Homo sapiens: one gene and its partners. The protein of the gene in region 3 purifies or fractionates together with the protein of the main gene of each other region. This does not show direct contact. Each region holds a gene or a part of one and is shown on either strand. Other genes may lie near its edges.

The links. Proteins that work in one complex are often made in the same cells at the same time.
Region 1: the proteins of YY1AP1 (region 3) and ZMYM4 purify together in Homo sapiens (affinity purification with mass spectrometry; 2 studies listed by BioGRID and IntAct, with this or other methods). This does not show direct contact.
Region 2: the proteins of YY1AP1 (region 3) and CEBPZ purify together in Homo sapiens (affinity purification with mass spectrometry; 2 studies listed by BioGRID and IntAct, with this or other methods). This does not show direct contact.

Annotation. Positions count from the first base shown.
Region 1 is NC_000001.11:35,355,709-35,362,708, reverse strand, and holds part of ZMYM4 (zinc finger MYM-type protein 4), read right to left. Parts: intron 3,888-7,000; exon of another isoform or gene 3,785-3,887; coding exon 3,263-3,784; intron 3,108-3,262; exon of another isoform or gene 2,932-3,107; intron 1,516-2,931; coding exon 1,454-1,515; intron 1,091-1,453; coding exon 920-1,090; intron 519-919; exon of another isoform or gene 443-518; intron 1-442. UniProt on the Homo sapiens protein: Plays a role in the regulation of cell morphology and cytoskeletal organization.
Region 2 is NC_000002.12:37,214,597-37,221,596, forward strand, and holds part of CEBPZ (CCAAT/enhancer-binding protein zeta), read right to left. Parts: intron 5,878-7,000; coding exon 5,789-5,877; intron 2,442-5,788; coding exon 2,388-2,441; intron 1,823-2,387; coding exon 1,720-1,822; intron 1,613-1,719; coding exon 1,544-1,612; exon of another isoform or gene 725-1,543; intron 357-724; coding exon 290-356; intron 1-289. UniProt on the Homo sapiens protein: Stimulates transcription from the HSP70 promoter.
Region 3 is NC_000001.11:155,671,775-155,678,886, forward strand, and holds part of YY1AP1 (YY1-associated protein 1), read right to left. Parts: intron 4,973-7,112; coding exon 4,774-4,972; intron 3,323-4,773; coding exon 3,236-3,322; intron 958-3,235; coding exon 786-957; intron 1-785. UniProt on the Homo sapiens protein: Associates with the INO80 chromatin remodeling complex, which is responsible for transcriptional regulation, DNA repair, and replication. Enhances transcription activation by YY1. Plays a role in cell cycle regulation.

The DNA of each region.
Region 1 (7,000 bases), about 120 Mb from region 3:
GAAAAAACAAAAAGAAAGAAAAGAAAAAGAAAGCACTTCCACAGAAGTCTGACAGTCTCAAACCTTCTAATATAAACAGAAAGATAGGAAAATATAAGCTTCCCCCAGATTAAATGTCATTTCAGAAAAAGAGCCAATTCATACCATCTTTACAAAACACAGATACCCTCAAATAATTGCTGCTATTGCATATTCGTCCCTTGGACCCCTTCTTGCACTTCAAAATGATTGCAGCATCTGATATAACTTTTTTCTTCTATTCCAACAACAGCAACATCATTAACTGCATGGATAGCTTAGCTGACTTCAGGACCTCACAGTTTTAAGATCTCTATGATTTTATCTCCAGAGCAACCTTGAAATAGCAGAGCTCTACCTTCACTCTTATTACTCACAGATCTCAAACTTGGAATCATGTATCATTCATCAAAGCCTCCTTTACCTTCTATCCACTAATCCAATGAACTGGTTCTTCAATCAATTAACCCTTCCAAAGATGATCTGTCCATTAACCCCTCCTGAAAAATATTTAAATCCATATATAGCCTGTACTTCATTAGCATTAACTGCAAAAGGCTTACTATCCTACATAAACTTGATTGCACCACAAACTTATAAACTACCATAAATCTTCAACCATATCTGCTGTATAGTTCTCAAAGCCTTGCGCTAAAATGCATTGCAAAAATCACAGTGGTATTAAGAAACAAAGATGATTAAAAGCCTTAATTACTACTCAGGAAAAGTTTCATATAGCTCGTTAATGCCTTATATGGTAATTCAAATCGCCTCAACCTTCTTTAAGAGTTTCCTTTCACCCTGTCAACAAACTATTTCACTTCTTAAGCACTTCCTCTCTCAAATGAATAATTCAATGTGTGGAACAAAAAGAAGGGGGGAAAAAAGGTGAAATGTTTACTTGAGCATTGTCAGGTTCATCTTTTATTTTGTCTAGTAGTCCCTGCTGTGGTGCCATTGCTTTGTCATACTCATCATCCAAAGGTTCTTCTTTAATTCTAATATTTGATGCAAAGGAATTCCCCAGTTCCGAACCAATGGATTCTTTATTGGCAAATGGGTAGCTGGAATCCTAAAACACAATATAAAGGATTAATAAATATTCAGATTTTAAAATGATTCCTCTTCAGGTTTAACACCCAAAGAAAAGCTCATTGGAAATGAAGAACTCTATGGACATTCATTAGCTTTTGGATCTTATGCCTACGCCTAAAAGTAATTGTGTTATATGTCCAAATACCAAATACAAATAAAGACCCTAAGATTTGAGGCTTTTTAGAATGTCTCCGATGATGACCTTAAACAAATATTAAGCAAATTAAAAAAAAAAAATCAGTGCTCTACCTAATACATTGTTAGAATTTAGAAACTGACATAAAGAAAACTTTGACACTTGTCACAGTTACAGCAATCTACATACACACTGAAAACTTACCCTAAAGTTTGTTTCTGGGGTTTGTGGTAAATGGGTATGTAATGTTTCTTCAACTTGATTAGCTATTGAAAGGAAAAAAAAAACAAACAAACACATGTATATGAATAACAAATCTTACAAAGAGTGACCTAAAAAGCTATCATTTGATAATCACCTCTCTTTTCCAACAAAGATGCTCGTTAGAGTGAACTGGGTCCCAAAAACACCCAAAAGGTATTTTCACTCAAAGTTCTGCACAATCTGGCCCCACCTAGCTTTTAGCCTTACCCTACATTTTTTCCTTGCTCAAACCTAAAAAAAAAAAAAAAAAAATTATTTTTGCTCTGAAAATTGCTTGCATTTGTTCTCCCCCATTTCTACTTATTCTATTCCAAGTCCCCTCTGTCTATCCTAATCTTTATACAGTTTTCCAGACTCAGCTCAGTTAAAAATTCACCTCTCCTCTATAAAACCTTCCCTGTTCACTAAGTTAAAAATCATCTCTCTTCTAAGAATCCCTAAAACACAGTTTCAGTTATTTGAAAGACATCTTTTTGAACTGCCTTATGACAAACTCTTCTACCACTGTCTTTAACTGTAAATTAAATCTTACGCTATTCAGCTGGACATTGGCACTTCTACGGCCTGACTTGTCTTGTCCATTCTACTACTAGACATTATGTTCCTTGAGAAACATGACTCTCATACCCCAAGAAGGGATATTGGAAATATATACTGAATTATAGAGAAAAATATAGTATATCCTTGCACAGACTTGTACATACTCAAAAGCTGTCTTTTTAACAATACTGGTTTGTTCTTTCTACCATACATTTCCTAGCATTGTTAGAAGAAATACAAGGACTGGTATAGAATACTTGCTTTCCTTCACAGCTATTGAACATTTATTGAAGAATTACTATTTTACTACACCAGGTTAGGCCCCAAGAATACAAAGATGAGTAAGATACAATCTGGCCCTCAACTCCTACACTAGTAGGTAAGGTAAAACAAATATAGAACTATAATACTGTGTGATAAGTACTATAAATAATGAGGCATGAAAATGCTGTGGAAATATAGATAAGGAAACCATTCTTGATGTAGAGCAGTTAGAATGATGACAGAGTAGAAGAGGTTTATGAGTTAGGCATTGTTGGATAAGAAGTACTTTCACAAGCAAATATACAGAGAGAAAATGACATGCAGGCAAATGGAATAGCAGGAGGAAAGGAAGGCATAGAAGGAAATATGTGATATATTCAAGAATGTTAACTAAAGCTAAAGTATAGGGTACACTGGGCAAAGAGGCTCAGGAGGAACCTCAAGAAACTTCTAAAACATAAATTAGAAATGTTTGGGTTTTTTTTATTAAAAAAAAACTCCCTTTCAGATAGAGGTGAGAGTTAATAAACAAAAAATTAAATTAAAATTAAAAAAATAAAATAACTCCCTAATTTGGACTAAGTGGTGAGACAGCAGTTTGAATTAGTGCTTACAGCACAAAGAAGTTAAATCCAACTTCAGGTTCCAATGTTCAACCAAAGAAAATGAACAGGTGATTCAAGTATCTTGCCTTTCTCATCAAAACATTGCAACCAGGGGAGGGAGAAATGAGGTTTAGAGCTATTTTCAACCATTTATACCATTACCAAAAGTTACTGGGAGAAATTCAGTCACTCTGCAAAGAACAAGGACAAAAGAAAAATGACAAGCTTACAATGAATTTAACCGTTCATACTTCACTTAACATCAAAAGTAATAAAAGCTATATATTATGATCGGTAATTTTTAATTGTGTTTTATGGTTCTAAGTCCAACAATTATTACCTGCTTTATCAAAAAAACTGCTTTTCAACCTTGAATCCAAATCTTTATGGGGTTTATCCAACCGTTTTTCACGTTCATAAGTTAGGTCTCTATTTTTCTCCTTTCCAGAAAATGTCTCTTTGCTGTTTTCTCTTACTAGACTAAAATCTTTCCGTATTGATTTAAAGACAGAAACCTGATCAAATTGTTTAGGAAAGTCTTTTTTTAACTTATTTTGAATTTGTATTTCATTTTCATTGTCTGATTCATGCTGTGTGACTCTTCTCTCTACTTCCAAGCTATCATCAGTATGAATTGAAGAAACAAGATTGTCCTTTGAACTAAAATCCTGTTCATCCTCATTGTCACTACCAACGACTGGAATTCCTGCAAGATCCCCAGAGTTCAAAAAATAATCATCTTCATCCAGCAATGAATTTTCAGATCCTGTTTGATTCGGCATTCCATAAGACATGCTGTCAAGGGTAGGAGTTAAGTTGTGGTCTATATCTTCAGACATTTCTGTATCCATGATACCACCACCTTAAAAAGTAAAATACTGTTTAGACAAATGATAGTGCTAAAGATGACCACAATGATAAGGTCAGTCTGGTATTTAACCAAATAAATATTTTTTCAAACAAAATACAGATATTACCATAGTATTCATTTAACACTTTGATATAGGTGTGACAGATATAACTATTCCTATCTGACAGTTAAGGAAACAAGGAGCCAAAACTTGAGAAACTACTTTAGGTTAGAAAAGAAAGCTACGTGATATAGAGAAAAGAGCACCAACTTCAGAATCAGACATATCTGTGTTGAAATCAAAGCATGATCCTGAAAATCTATGTAATCCTAAAAAGTAAACTCTCAGAGTCTATCTATACAACAGCATAATACTCACCTTGGAGATAAATTTGTGGTGAGGATTAGTGATAGTATGTACAAAAGACCTACTAACACAATGACTGACAAATAGAAGGGAATATAAAATGGTAATTATAATTATTATGGCGATTATTCAGGGAAAACTGAGATTAGCACTCAGGTCTTTGGTCTGAGTCCCATTTTCTCTGCACTAACACTAATAAACACTGACGGCAGTTAATACTTACACATAAAAATAAATTTTATCCAACCTAGAATAAAAGACTATTTACTGTTTAAAACTACTAATATATACTAATCTCTCCCATTCCAAAACAAAACAAAGCAATGCCCTCATTCATGCCCTAACCCTACAATGCCCTCATTCATCTTCCCTTCACAAACTTGTAGGAAAAAAATTCTACCTAGTTTGCTTCTACTTCATCTCTATCATTAACCCTTTGAGCTTAATACAATCAGCTCCCAACTTTCCACTGGAACTTTTCTCATTAACATCATCAATGATCTCCTAATGGTCAAAGCAAATTGACTTTTTTCAATTCCTAAATGGCATATCCCTCATGGATAAAATTCCTTTGGATTCTTTGGTACTCTTATTTCTTACTTTCCTTAATTGCCTTATAATTTATTTTATACTCTTCTTCTGTTCACATGGCTTCAATGTTAGCTTTTCTGCAAGATTCCTGTTCTCTTTACTTTTACACTCAGACTGAGCTATTTTGTTCACCTCCATAACACTTACCTTTGCTACTGACTTCCTAAGCACTTAAGCTTAGACCTTTCTTATAAGATTTCGGATGTCTATATTCAACTAGCTCCTACACGTTCTCCAACTTAGCATCTCTAAAATCAAAACTCATCATGTTCCCTCCCATTCCAAGCATATGCTTCTTATATTTCCCTCAGATGGTTAACAGATTCACCAAACCAGCAGTTGCTCAAGATTTCCCCCTGGACAAATTCTGTCAACTTTATTACTTATCTCTCTCAAATCCATCTTTTCCACTTAGCACCTAGTTCTAATACTCCACGTCTCCTCCTGGATTCTACAATACCTTCAAAGGTATACTAATTCAGTCCACATGGATACTCAGGAAGCAACCATACCCTTATAAACTCTATGCCTAAACCACATTTAATTGATACATCAGCAAACAAACTGGAACTGATAAAAATAGAGTGAGGCGAAGACTAAAAATATTAGTGGCACTGGCATCCTTGCTCTTATTTGTTCCTGAAGCCCAGTTACATCCTTCATGTGGCTGGTTCTTCAACCCTTCTCTGGATTATGGAATCCAATAAATTCCTTTTGTTAAGTTGATTTGAGTTGGATTATCTGTAATCAGGTCCCAACTGATACAGAACCCAAAGGAAAGCTTTCCTGGACCAGGCACAGTGGCTCACACCTATAATCTTAGCACTTTGGGAGGCTGAGGCCAGAGGATTGTTTGAGGCCAGGAGTTCAAGACCAGCCTGGGCAACATAGCAAAAGCCCATCTCTACAAAAAAAAATTTTGTTTTAATCAGCCAGGTGTAGTGGTACACACATGCAGTCCTAGCTACTCAGGAGGCTGAGGAAGGAGGATCACTTGAACCCAAGAGTTTGAGGCTGCAGCAAGCTATAATTGTGCCACTGCACTCCAGCCTGGGTGATGTGACAGGGCAACCCCCTGTTTCTTTCTTTTTTTTTTCTGAGCTTTGCTCAAGTTGCTCTCTTCCATAATGACATCAGAATTACCTTTCCAAAATATAAATCATTTCACATTACATCCTCCCTTGAGATTCTTCAATAGCTCCCCACTGCTTGAAGTATTCATTCATTCAGTACATATTTATTAGGAAACCACTCTGTGGTAGGTATTGCACTAGGTTCTAGGGATAAAATGATGAAAGAGATAGCTATGACTCTTCCTCCTCACAGAGCTAGAAAAAATAAACAGAAAATTAGAAACAGTATGAGGGTAAATAATGATTTGAGTCCATAATGTCAAAGGGAAGGAGATAAAAGCTTGTTTCTATCATAAGAACGTTTGCTAATAAACGTAGAGGCAATAATATAATTGGAAAAATTGTCTATACTTTCTAAAATAATCAATTGAGACAACAGATAGTAAAACAGATGCTAAAATCTTAGGAGATGTATGCTGAAGAACTTACAGGTGAGCCATCTCAACGTTTCATCATTAGTAGCTGACCACATAGCATGTGCTCTGTAATTTTTCATAAATGAAAAATTAGGTGTTTTATGTAGTCAGAACAATGAGTTCTATAGTGCATGAGAAGTCAATACTAAGAAGTAATATTGTAAGCAACTTTCCATATCACTACATTTACTTATTTATTTAGTTAGTTGGTTCATTTTTTGAGACAGGATCTGGCTCTGTCACCCAGGCTGGCGTGCAGTGGCATGATCTCAGCTTATTACAACCTCCGCCTCCAGGACTCAAGCAATCCTCCTACCTCAGCCTCTCAAGTGGCTGAGATAACAGGCGCATGCCGCCACATCTGGCTAATCTTTGTATTTTTTGTAGAGACCCAGTTTGGTCTTGAACTCCTGAGCTCAAGCAATCCGCCCACCTCAGCCTGCCAAACTGCTGGGATTACAGACATGAGCCACTGCACCCAGCCCCTTATCATTACATTTAAATTCAGGATATAGTATTTGAAGAAAAGGGTAGTCATATGGAAAAATGAGATCCCTAACTCACATCAAAAAATTTTACAGATGTATCTAAGTTTTAGGCATAAAGAAATAAAACAGTAATATTAAATAAACTACGGAAGAATTATTTTAGTAATATTAAAGAAACTATGGAAGAATTATTTTTGAGTCGCAGAGACAAGCCTTTCTAATAATGACCAAAA
Region 2 (7,000 bases), on a different chromosome or scaffold from region 3:
AATTTACTTTAGTTTTACTAAGATATATTAAGATTAGCAAAATGACGGATTTGTAAATTTTCTTAACAAACACAGACATATCCTTTGATCTTTTCAAAATATGCTGATTAGATTTCATAAAATGAAGCATTTAAAACTAAGGCCACTTCTCCCACTAATGTTCCATGGTCTATTTACACACAGTAGTAGATTATTGAAGTAGATTATTTCATAAAATGAAGCATTTTATGAAATCTAAAAATTTAAATTTTAGCAGTTTCCCCAAATGAAACTATATTATGTATAGTACCTGTGGAAAAACACTTCATCCACTGGTATTTGGCTTTCTTCTTTTGCAAGGAACTCCTTACTGTTCACTACAAAAATAAATTTAAACATTTTAACTTCATATAGCAATCCCCTTTATGTTACTCAAGCTCTTAAGACAAAATACAGCATAATCTGTAATTCTAAAAATCTCAGAATTGTGTGGGAAGGTAGACAGAAGGGACTCTGGAGTGCAAGGGACAATCTCTGAAAAAGTCTGTGTGAAGACCCCCCCAACATTTGAAACTTCACTGGCTACAGCATAAAGTAGGCAGTACATAGCTGTCAGTGCCGTTACAGTGAAACAACAGGGTTCTCTTACTGTTCTTCATTTGCATCCAGGACCCAACTTTCAAGAGAAATAAAAAATTCAAAGAGTTATTTTAATAAATAATCACTTTAAACTTGTCATTTTCAGCTCAAAAAATGACAAGCTTGCCATTAATGCGTGCCATTCTGGGAATAAACAGGAAGTTAACAGAGTTTTCCTTTATACTGAGGAAAACTAAGAAATAAGGAACTACAAGAAATCAGTTTTACCTCTTCAGAATAAAAATTGCTGACTCATCCTGAGTAAAAGGAGATTTGGCTTTTAATTCTAACTTACTAACTGTGGGTAAGTCCTTTTACATCTCTGGACCTCTGTGAAGTAAGTCACTGGAAATTAAATGATCTATAAGGTCTAATTTAATCCTGGTCTCTGAACAAAAGGGAGATGAGATCTGGTATGCAAAGAAATGTCTGCTTTGAATACAACAACAGACTCAGATCCAGAAGATGGCTAGCAAATATAGAAGTAGGTTATTAAGTTTAAAATGATGCTCTGTGACAAAACCAGCTGTGGGTTTTTGTGCTGCTAAGCTGATATTAGAGAGCTTTAAGATGGTCTGAATTGTAAGCAATAATAATTATATACATAGGGGTTGTGGATGAAGCTACGGATGATAAAATGGTGACAACTGTCAAAGCTGGGTGATGGTAATGGGGAGGGGGTTCATCATACTATTTTGTTTATTTTGGATATGTTTCAAATTTGCTGTAATAAAGTTAAAAAAAAAAAAAAAAAGGCCCAGTCAGATACAGTAGATTTAAGAATACCTATTCTTGGGAAAAAAGATGGATAATGTCTTTGATGCTCAGGTTTTATTCTGATAAATTAGAACAAAGAATAATACAATTTATGCATCTTTGTCTTATATTGTCTTTTCAGTTTCAACTGTCTAAGGTTTATACTTACCAGGAAGATGACGAATATCCTTAATAAAATGTTTTCTTTTCGGCTGCATCACAACACTATCTGTGTTTTCTGAAATGTAAAATTATGACAGTATAATGCAAAACCTAGTTATAAGCTCATATTGTTTATTATGTATTAAAAATGAAAGCCAAATAATTCACTAAATAGAAGCATACCTTTGCCTTTATGGGGCTTTGGATTTCGGTATACAAATCGATCCAAAAATCTCATTAGAGTGAAATCCTGCAGTGGGTCCCCTGAATACTGAATATAGTTTCCCTGAAAAGTGGAGCGGGGATTTAAAAACTTAATTCAAATTATGTCTATGAATCCAAGTAAGAAAAAGGAAGAAAAAGATAATTTCTATTACACTGTATTGAAGATACAAATATGCAATAAATGACTCTTCAAATATCTCTCTCATGCACATTATACTTAAAAAATTAAACACACAGATACATATACATACATATTCTAGGATGTAATGTTGATTTGATGGATAGACTAATATTAATAATGCAGGCCATCTAACCATTAATCAGGAACCAAACCCTGAAGTGGCAAACACAGCAAATGGGAAAGTGAGGCAGTATTTCTCCAGGAGAGGAGCTAGAAGGTAATAAATAAATAACTGCGTGGCTTTCAATGTCTTATTGCTTCCACTCATCTCAGAGTGGGAAAAGTTATCTGCTACTCTGTATGAAACAAGTCACTGCTTCTTTATACGAGCAGTAAAATGTACAAGATTCTCTCTGTTAGAGAAAACACTGTATGACCAATTATTGATTATCTAAAATGATACTTTTTTTCTTATTTCTCATCTTTGGATTTATTTTAGACTCACCTGAAGGATGGTCTTTGCAAAAAGGGCCACGGAGGGATGAAAATGCACAGATAACTAAAAAGAAAAATGTGAATAATATCAATATTTCTAAGGTCGACTCTTAGTACATTTATAGCTTATTTAAGAAAATCGGGCTGGGTGTGGTGGCTCACACCTGTAATTCCAGCACTTTGGGAGGCTCAGGCAGGCAGATTGCTTGAGCCCAGAAGTTGAGACTGGCCTGGGCAATATGGCGAAACCCCATGTCTACAAAAAGTACAAAAATAGTCAGGGTGTGATGGTGCGCGCGTGCCTGTACTCCCAGCTACTCAGGAGGCTAAAGTGGGAGGACTGCCTGGGCCCAGGAGGTCGAGGCTGCAGTGAGCTGACATGGCACCACTGCACTCCAGCCTGGGTGACAGAGTGAGACCCTATTTCAACAACAACAAAAATGAAAATGCAAAAATTTGAAATTTAAGCCAATACATTAAAAAAGTGATTCTCAAAACATATTGGTCTCAGGACCATTTCCTACACTTAAAAACCAAAAATTCCATCAGTTTCTATTCAACAGGTTTATATCTACAGACACCTATGTTATAAAAATAAACAGAAAAATTGTAAATACTTATAGGTCCATTAAAAATAACAATAAAGCGGCCAGGCGCGGTGGCTCATGCCTGTAATCCCAGCACCTTGGGAGGCTGAGGTGGGCGGATCACGAGGTCAGGAGATCGAGACCATCCTGGCTAACATGGTGAAACCCCATCTCTACTAAAAATACAAAAAATTAGCCGGGCGTGGTGGCGGGTGCCTGTAGTCCCAGCTACTCGGGAGGCTGAGGCAGGAGAATGGTGTGAACCTGGGAGGCGGAACTTGGAGTGAGCCGAGATCGCGCCACTGCACTCTGGCCTAGGCAACAGAGCAAGACTCTGTCTCAAAAAAAAAAAACAAAAAACAAAAACAAAAACCATAAAGCTACTACATACTAGTAAGTAGCATATTTATGAAAAATAATTATGCAGCCAGGCGAGGTGGCTCATGCCTGTAATCCCAGCATTTTGGGAGGCCGAGGCGGGCGGATCACGAGGTCAGGAGATCGAGACCATCCTGGCTAACACGGTGAAACCCCGTCTCTACTAAAAATACAAAAAATTAGCCAGGCGTGGCGGTGTGCGCCTGTAGTCTCAGCTACTCGGGAGGCTGAGGCAGGAGGATGGTGTGAACCCGGGAGGCGGAGCTTGCAGTGAGCTGAGATCGCACCACCGCACTCCAGCCTGGGCGACAGAGCAAGACTCTGCCTCAAAAAAAAAAAGAAAAAAGAAAAAAAGAAAAATAATTATGCTTCAGGACGAAATATATAGCGAGTAGTATTACTTTACAGTTTTGCAAATCTCTTTAATGTCTGGCTTAACAGAAGAGAGTGGATTATTTCATCTGCTTCTGTATTCCACGTTGAAACATACAATCTGGCCTCATGTGTAGAAAATAGTCTTTCACATAGCTGTGAATTTTCTTCTTTAGTACTATACCAAAACCAAAGATTAGTTGTAATATGGAATCTGAAACCCATATTCAATTGGCTTTTGGTACTTGCTACTTAAAATTATTTGGTCTACTTTGAATCAATCATTTATTCACTCAAGAATTTGTAACATTCAGGTGGCACAGTGGCTCATGCCTGTAATCCCAGCACTTTGGGAGGCTGAGGTAGGTGGATCACCTGAAGTCAGGAGTTCGAGACCAGCCTGGACAACATGGCAAAACACTGTCTGTGCTAAAAATAAAAAAATTAGCTGGGCATGGTGGCATGCTCCTGTAATCCCAGCTACTCAGGAGGTAGAGGTTGCAGTGAGCCGAGATCGCGCCACTGCATTCCAGTATGGGTGACAGAACCTTCTCGTTTCAAAAAAAAGAATTTGTAACATTGTGCATTGGTCATTGGAAAAATACCATATGCAGTCCTTCCAAACACTGGCACATTTCGTTATACTTTACCACAACAATCACATTGTTAGAACCACTGATTTCATCAGAAAAGTTTTACAAATTGAGAAACTGTCAAGCTCAAGGTGGTGGTTACAAGATTTTTAAAACTTTAATCTTTGCTCGAAAGCTTTATTTTTGAATTTTATTGCTGACAACAAATACTGCCAGCTTTTTTGTTTCATTCATTTTCAAGAAAATATCTCCCAAATACCTAAGCCTGAATAACCAGTTTGTCAGTCTTTCATGAAAGAGCAGCTAGATGAGCTTGCAACAACTGGTAAGCACTTGTCCTTGAGACACGTGACAACCTTCATGCTTTAGGTAGGCAGCACAGGTATGTTACGCATACTTGCTATGTATGCACACGAAATACTAAAAAGACATGTTACTTTAAGGTCAAGACACTAAAATCAGTAATTCTCCCTGTGTCATCATTCTTAAGTCATACTGGCTTTTTTTTTTTTAACTGCACATATGTGGCAGTGATGAATATAATGGCTTCTGATGCAGCTTGGTGCTGTCTTTATTCAGGATAAGCTGCAGCAGTTTTACCTATCATTTCTTTTATAGTATCAGTGCCACCGTCAACACAGTGATGAAAACAAATAATGTACTGGTATTACTATGGAAAGAGCTGTGACCTGGCCGACTCACTAAAAAGGTATCAGGAACTCTTAGTGGTCTGGCCGCACTTTGAGAATAGCTGCATAAGATACTTACTGGCTTTACACAAAAAGTCACAGAAAGGTTATTAAAAATATGAATTCCTCTTACAAATTCAGAAAAGTAACTTTACTTGCAAAAAATTTTATCATAAAACTTTTCAGAGGTATCTAATAAATAAAGCAAAATTTATCCATTTTCTCAACTCTATATGCAATAATCTACCTACAAAAAGCAACAGTCATAACCCATGCATGACATCCTTATTTTACGTGCACACTTAAGATTTTCTACAAAATGAACACTTCACATAGTATCTTCCCCCAAATGTGGACTTTTAATGTTTATTAATGCTTATAATTATCATAAAAAAACAAAAACTTCAAGGCATTACATCCTCAAGGGCAAAAATATACAGCATAGGCCGGGCGCAGTGGCTCATGCCTGTAATCCCAGCACTTTGGGAGGCTGAGGCAGGCGGATCACAAGGTCAGGAGATCAAGACCATCCTGGCCAACATGGTGAAACCCCGTCTCTACTAAAAATACAAAAATTAGCTGGGCGTGGTGGTGGGCGCCTGTAATCCCAGCTACTTGGGAGGCTGAGCCAGGAGAATGGCTTGAACCCGGAAGGCGGACGTTACAGTGAGCCACAATCATGCCACTGCACTCCAGCCTGGTGACAGAGGAAGACTCTGTCTCAAAAAAAAAAAAAATATATATATATATATATAGCATAAATGAATAAAAGACAATTTGAAATTATTTTACCTTTTTGAGTTCCCAAAGACTTGTATTTTCAGCTCCACAGAACAGAGGGTTTCTACTGAATGGATCGTATTTATTTAACTGTTTCCCACCTAGGAATAACAAAAAAAATACGATTTCTCAAATGCTTTCTTCCTAGCCCAAGAGGTCATTAAAAGCACCACCATTAATATTCTCAACAGATATCTCCAACATTCTTACTTAGCCAAGCAACCTAGATTAAAAACTCTGAGCTCCCTCAAGAATTTGTCTTGGTACTTAAGCTAGCATCTGCTCTTGAATAAAGCAGAGAACATGTTTATCCCAAACACCAAAAGCTTTCTTCAAGGCCAGGTGCAGTGGCTCACACCTGTAATCACAGCACTTAGGGAGGCTGAGGCGAGTGGATCATTTGAGTTCAGGAGTTCGAGACCAGCCTGGGCAAAATGGTGAAACCCCATCTCTTACAAAAAATACAACAAAAAAACTAGCCAGGTGTGGTGGTGTGTGCCTGTAGTCCCAGCTATTCGGGAGACTGAGGTGGGAGGATCACTTGAGCCCAGGAGATGGGAGTTGCAGTGAACCAAGATCGTGCCATTGTGATCCAGCCTTCCTGACAGAGCAAGACCCTGACTCAAAAATAAGTAAGTAAAAGCTCCCTTCAAAACTTCTCCTTTGGCTGGGCACAATGGCTCATGCCTATAATCCCAGCACTTTGGGAGGCCAAGGTGGAAAGGCTGCTTGAGACCAAGAGCTCGAGACCAGCCGGTGCACAGAGTGGGATTTCGTCTCTACAAAAAACACAACTAGCCATACCTGGTGGCACGAGCCTGTAGTCCCGGCTACCTGGGAGGCTGAGGTGGGAGGATCGCTTGAGTTCAGGAGTTTGAGGCTGCAGTGAGCCATAATGGCCCACTGTACTCCAGCCTGGCCTGGGTGACATAGTGAGACCCTGTCTCAAAAAAAACAAAAACCAAACCAAAAAACCCCAAACTTCTCCCTTTCCTAAATGGCAACAAAAGGTGCCCATTTTGGGGCCAAAGAGGTGGAAACGTTAAGATGGAAATAATCTGAAGATGAACTAGGTCTAAAGTCTTTTGGAGCTTTAGAGTGCTTCAAATATTTGTCATGAAAGTATGCCCAGAAATAATTCTCACTTGGAACAGGTCTGACATTATCTTCATGTTTTTAGAAACTCAGGATTAAAAAAATTTAAAACAAAGATTTTTCAGAACA
Region 3 (7,112 bases):
TTTCATTACCATTTCATATAATATAGCTATTAAAGTAGTTTGGGATCTGTGTCTATGATATAGTACACTTAAATTCAACTACATTCAATGTAATGATAAGACTTAGGGATTTAAAATAGAATCCAAAGACAAACCCAAATCCAGAACAAACCACAACTAATTTGCTAAGTCAGCAAACAAATCAGAAGTAAATATTTGGCTTAAGTAAATAGCAAATATTTTCTCAAAAAATACTAAACCAATGCAAGGTAGAATCTAAACCGGCAAATTTCTTTAAAATACTGAACACGGCAAATGTACAATCTCTAATTTACGCCTAACTTGCAAGTCAACATTTCATTCAGAATGGAGATATCACCTATGCTACAATCATTATGGTAAATAAAGTTAGTTGATCTTAATGAAGAGAATAAAAAGCTAAACATGACCGAACTTTACCACCTGACTTTCATCTTTACCAGGCCCCAGTTTATCTTGATCTGATTCCTAATACTTACCCCTCATATTGCTGTAGTCCAATTCTTAGCACTGAGCCTCAGATCTCTACCTCCCATATTCCTATACTGTCCACTGCCTCCATGCCTTACCCAGGCCCGGAGATTATCATGTAATTCTAGAACTTGGATAATGAGTACAAAGGGAGGATAAAAGAGAGAAGGAAGAAATTACAAATGTCCTGTGTCCTCCATTCCTAGGCAAGTATCCTAGGAAGTTATCTATGGGATAAGATTCCCACCACCTCTCACCGCAAGTAAAAACTTAAAGCTGACACATCTGTCTCCTACCAGTCTTCTTGACAGTTTTATGAGGGCTGCAGTCAATGCTGACATGTGTGCTGAAGTCTTCAATCAGCTGCATAGCTCCCATCAAGTTACAGGGTTGGAACAGGGTCTGAAACTTGGGGTTGTACTGATGGTGAAGGGCGATGGAGCTTTGAGCAAAGGTTCCCAGCTCTTTCTGGGAAAACACGACACAAGGAAGATCTAAGACAATTCCAGACAATTAATACCAATAGCCTTCAGAATCTAAATGAGAAGCTGACCTTCCTACTACAGGATAAAAACAGGTAAAAATAATCATAAAGTCTTTCACAATAAACTACTGTTAAGATTATGCCTGAGTTCTCAGATATTCAGGGATTATATTCTTGTTTTATTTTTAAACTGTTTCTCACTAAGGAATACATGGTCTAGCTCCCGAGCTAGAATTAAGAGTCTCAAGAATGGGGACTATTACTTTAATTTAATTAATTAATTTATTTTGAGACATGGTCTCACTCTGCCGCTCAGGCTGGACTGCAGTGGCATGATCTCAGCTCACTGCAAACTCCCCCTCCCAGGCTCAAGCCATCCTCCCACTGCCTCCTGAGAAGCTGGGACTATAGGCATACACCTCCAAACCTAGCTGATTTTTGTATTTTTTGCAGAGACAGCGTTTTCCCATCTTGGCCAGGCTGATCTCGAACTCCTGGGCTCACAATCCGCCTGCCTCGGCCTCTCATAGTGCTGGGATTACAGGGATGAGTCACCTCACCCGACCAGGACCATTACTTTTAAAATTGTTTTGTCTTTTGGTCTCAGAATAATGCCTACAACCAAGTACTCCTCATCCTCCTCTGAATACAGTAAGAGATGAAGACATCCTGTTGATCACCAAGGAAGTTTTAGAATACTAGCAAATGTACTCTTCAAAATCCAAAGAAGACTTACTGAAGAAGCTGAGAGTATTATCATTACCTGTCCAAAAGTTTGAGGCAATTTTTATGAGGTAAAGTATGGTTTTGTTTTTGTGAGACAGGTTCTCACTCTGTCACCCAGGCTGGAGTGATATATAAGCACGGCTCCCTACAGTCTCAACGTCCCAGGCTCAAGTGATCCTCCTACCTCAGTCTCCCAAGTTGCTGGGACTACAGGCACTCGGCACCATCCCCAGCTAATTTTTTTATTTTTTATTTTTTTGGTAGGGATGGGGTCTTACTATGTTGCCCAGGCTGGTCTCAAACTCCTGGGCTCAAGCAATCCTCCCACCTTGACCTACCAAAGTGCTGGGACTACAGGCATGAGCCACCATACCTGGCCAAATTTCAAATTTAAAATCTCAAAATAGGCCGGGCGCGGTGGCTCACGCCTGTAATCCCAGCACTTTGGGAGGCCGAGGTGGGCGGATCACGAGGTCAGGAGATCGAGACCATCCCGGCTAAAACGGTGAAACCCCGTCTCTACTAAAAATACAAAAAATTAGCCGGGCATAGTGGCGGGTGCCTGTAGTCCCAGCTACTTGGGAGGCTGAGGCAAGAGAATGGCGTGAACCCGGGAGGCGGAGCTTGCAGTGAGCCGAGATCCCGCCACTGCACTCCAGCCTGGGCGACAGAGCGAGACTCCGTCTCAAAAAAAAAAAAAAAAAAAAAAAAAGCTCAAAATACCTCAAAACGTCATGAGCAAAACTAGCTCTACACATAAAACACTAATATTGAGCTTCATGAATGGATAATGAATTCAACATCTACATGTATATTTACTTCATTATTTAAATTAAAACAAAACAAAACAAAAAAAACACAGACCGGGTCTTACTATGTTGCCCAGGCTGTTCTTGACCACTGGGCTCAAGTGATCCTATCACCTCAGCCTCCCAAAGTGCTGGAATTACAGGTGTGAGCCACTATGCCCAGCCTCAACATCTATGAAATGAATAGCGGTACCAAAAACCTAAGAAGTCAGGGTGAATCTAAAGATGAGGAGGAGGACCCAATAAAAATATCAGAAGGACAGGCCAGGCGCAGTGGCTCATGGCTGTAATCCCAGTACTTTGGGAGGTAGAGGTGGGCAGATCACTTGAAGTCAGGAATTCGAGACCAGCCTGGCCAACATGGCAAAACCCTGTCTCTACTAAAAATACAAAAAAAATTACCCGTGGTGGTGCCCGCCTGTAGTCCCAGCTACTTGGGAGGCTGAGGCAGGAGAATCACTTGAACCCGGGAGGCAGGGGTTGCAGTGAACTGAAATTGTTCCACCGCACTCCATCCTGGGTGAAAGAGCAAGACCCTGTCTCAAAAAAGAAAAGAAAAAATTGAATACACTCTTTGTCCTTTCATGTGAATCAGTGGCTTATGTTCACTCAGCAAACATAGGAAGCCACAGCAATCAAAAATACCTGAGAGAATAACTGTGAGAAATAACCTGCCAAGCTAATTTTATATTCTAGTCTATAGAATTACGGCAATTTGGAAACTTACAAGACATATCCTGGTGCTACTGGCCTCCGGATTGAGATTGGGGTTGCAGGTGGCAAGAAGGTGGATTTGTGTCAAGAGCTGAACATGCTGGGGAGAGAAAGAAAATAATGCAGTGATATGTTATGACACTGCCATTTCAGGAGCCCAGAGATATTTTTTTTTCCCCCTGGAGACAGGGTCTTGCTCTGTCACACAGCTTGGAGTGCAGTGGTGCAACCATGACTCAATGCCCTCTCAACCACCTGTGCTCAAGCAATCTTCCCACCTCAGCCTCCCAAGTAGCTGTGACCACAATGCCTGGCTAATTTATTTTATTATTATTATTATTATTATTTTTAGACAGAGTCTCGCACTGACTTTTGGGCTGGAGTGCAATGGCGTGATCTCGGCTCACTGTAACCTCTGCCTCCCAGGTTCAAGTGATTCTCTTGCCTCAACCTCCCGAGTAGCTGGGATTACAGGTGCCCGCCGCCACACCCAGCTAATTTTTTGTTTTCGTAGAGACGGGGTTTCACCATGTTGGCCAGGCTTGCCTCAAACTCCTGACCTCATGATTCACCCGCCTTGGCCTCCCAAAGTGCTGGGATTACAGGTGTGAGCCACTGTGCCCAGCCTTATTTTTATTTTTTGTAGAGACAGAGTCTCACTATGTTGTCCAGGCTGCTTTTGAACTCCCCTGCTCAAGCAATCCTCCCACCTCAGCCTCCCAAAGTGCTGGGATTACATGTGTGAGCCACTGCACCCAGCCACCAGAGAGTCATTAACTAAGATGTTTGCAACTTTATGACACAAATTTTGCTTTCTGCAAAGAGTGTGAGAACAACGTAGGATCTTGGCATAAATTTCTCAGACATGTTCCCTTGAACAAAATGACAGAACCAGAGGAAGTTTAACCTCTAAACAGAGGAGGAACTGAGATTAGAAAAGGAAAAGGCCGGGCGCAGTGACTCACGCGTGTAATCCCAGCACTCTGGGAGGCCGAGGCGGGTGGATCACGAGGTTAGGAGATCGAGACCATCCTGGCTAACACAGTGAACCCTGTCTCTACTAAAAATACAAAAAATTAGCTGGGTGTGGTGGCGAGTCCCTGTAGTCACAGCTACTCGGGAGGCTGAGGCAGGAGAATGGCGTGAACCCGGGAGGCAGAGCTTGCAGTGAGCTGAGATTGAGCCACTGCACTCCAGCCTGGGTGACAGAGCGAGACTACGTCTCAAAAAAAAAAGAAAAAAGAAAAGGGAAAAGGGAAAAAAAACTACTTGTCACAGTGAAGGTTAAATTTCAGAATAGATTACTGAGGACTCTTTGAAATCTGTAATTCCGAATACCATTAGGGTCCTTATGTGCTGTCTTCCCTGAGCCACAGGACATGAACATGATGACTTCTCAAGCTCCTAACTGATGTGAAGATACTACGGTTTTAATACGTAGTAAGGTAACTATCTCTGACATTTACAAAGCTGCTAATTTTAGATTATACCAAAGCCTCAGAGTTAGGCCTTGGTATAATTCAATATTAATATGACCAAGGAAAGTGTTACCTGCTGCATCTGCTGCTGGAGTCTCTTCCTTTGTGCTGGGTCCAGAATCAGGGTCTGATGAACTTCCTTACACTGGGGTTTAACCTTCTCTACCTCCTTCTGCTGTTTGGCTGAAGGTTTCTTCATCTTCAGCTGTTCAAATAGTTCCTTCGCTATCTGATGTTGTTCATTTAGTAGGTTGGCCAGTAGTTCCTCAAACCTATCCCAAACGGGGATGACTGAATTTGAGTGTTTTCCTAGGTCCACAACACATCCAATTCTTTGCAATGATGAGCAAAGAGCCTGAACAATTTTCATTCCCTACTAATCCCCCCTTTTCACTTTAGCCAACAGTCAAACTCCCAGCCTTACACAAATCTTTTCCCAAAGTAGTTAGCATGCATCAAATGATTCTGTATTACACCCCATCCCATTCCTCTACAATTCCTCTTCCAAATAATATACAAATGAAGAAAAAATTAAACAAAAAACTAGGGACAGAGAAATATATGGGTAAGAAAGCAGCCAAGGAGCTGGTGGGAACTCATCATTCTCATTTCTTCTCTCATTACTTGTTACTCCCTGGGATGTTACTCCCATCCCAGGTCCAGCTTGTCCCATTATCCTATCTACTCAGGCTGCACTGCCCTGCTTTCTTAACAAGTCAAAGACTTTCTAGCATGAAGCAGGAAAAGGATATACCAAAATAACTGAAGTACATGGTAGTTCAAATGAACAGAACGGAGAAGTTAGTTAAAATATTATCCATGAAGGCTATCTTCTTTTAGCCCTTTAAATTCCTCTTCCAAGGTTCCTAACCCTAACTTCCCATCCATACCCTCCTGAAAGATTGTTTGCAGGGCTGAAGCAAAAATTCCAATACCTAGCATGTCAGTTCTATGTATGATTACTATACCTTTTCTATGTTTACATAGAAAGAAATAAAGGGAGAATAATATACCTAAATGATTAAGCATATGCTGATACCCTATGCAACAGGATAAGATCTGCTGAAGTAGCTATAACAAGCAGGTTATCATATTTCAAGGAACCCCCTATATTACAGCAATAGTTAAATGGTAACGTTTTTCAATAGTTTTTGCAGATAAAGATTACGTTTGAATAAGTTTTCTTTTATAGTATTTACTGTAGGTTTGGGTAGCACAGAGTAAAAACCTGAAGACCGTGGGACTGTCTATACAATCTTTACTGAGAACTGAAAATTTGAACATCCGCGCTACCACCACTGAAGGAACAGAAGAGAAGAAGCATAAAAAAGTAGAAAATGGAAACATAGCCTGCACTTAGTTTTAACAAGGATTATTTAGGTAATTGATAAGGGAAGCCCCAGAGTTTTTGTTTTGACTGTCTTTTTCTCCTCTCTCTTCCTTATTGTGTTTTAAGATGTGCTTACTCTCTATGGACTTACAGAGGGATTTTTATTTAGTCAAAGATTAAAACAAAAACAGGTTTGTATTTGCAATCGAAAGAGAAGCAGAAGCTGCCCAAGTACAGTCATGCGCCACAGAATGTTTCAGTCAATAACGAACCACATAGTCAGAGGTGGCTCCATAAGATTACTGTACCTTTTCTATGTTTACATACATATGTACTTACCATTGTGTTACAACTGCCTACAGTATTCAGTACAGTACAGTAACACACTGTACAGGTTTTGTAGCCTGGGAGCAATAGGTATGCAGTAGGCTAAACCATTTAGGTTTATGTAAGTACATTCTACGATGTTTACACAATGATGAATCGTTTAATGATAGATTTCACAGAGGGTATGACCATGAGATGATATATGACTATATTCCATTGAATACCAGAAGGTAACTGGATTCTAACAGGAATTTTAAATTAGTTCTATATTTTCCAAATTTTAAGAAGTTATAAAGAGTTGATCAGCAAAACCAAAATATTTATTAATCAGATCCTATTATACGTTCCCAGGATGAATGGTTCCATTCTGCTATACCAGAATTTTGTTCTATGAACTATAAATTAAAATAATGGGTCAAATACTGACTTAGCAATCTTGAGATTTTTGATGTAGTTGTATTGTGATATTTGTTGTAATGGAGAATGACTAGTAGTTCTAGTTTTTAAGACATTGGTTGGCCTATCTTATCTTTTTTCACTAAATTGGAAAATCCCTAAAGGTCTAGCTTTCAGATGGAACCCAAGCTCTCTGCTTAGTAGTGCTGTTAAGTTCAAACACAGGACTAATTACAGGGACTATTCTCTTTGCTTTGTTCCACTTATGGCACAAACTGCATCCTGACCTCTCGCCATCGACCTAATGATTATATGCTGCTACAACAGAATAAAGTGCAGATGCAAATCCACCACAAAAT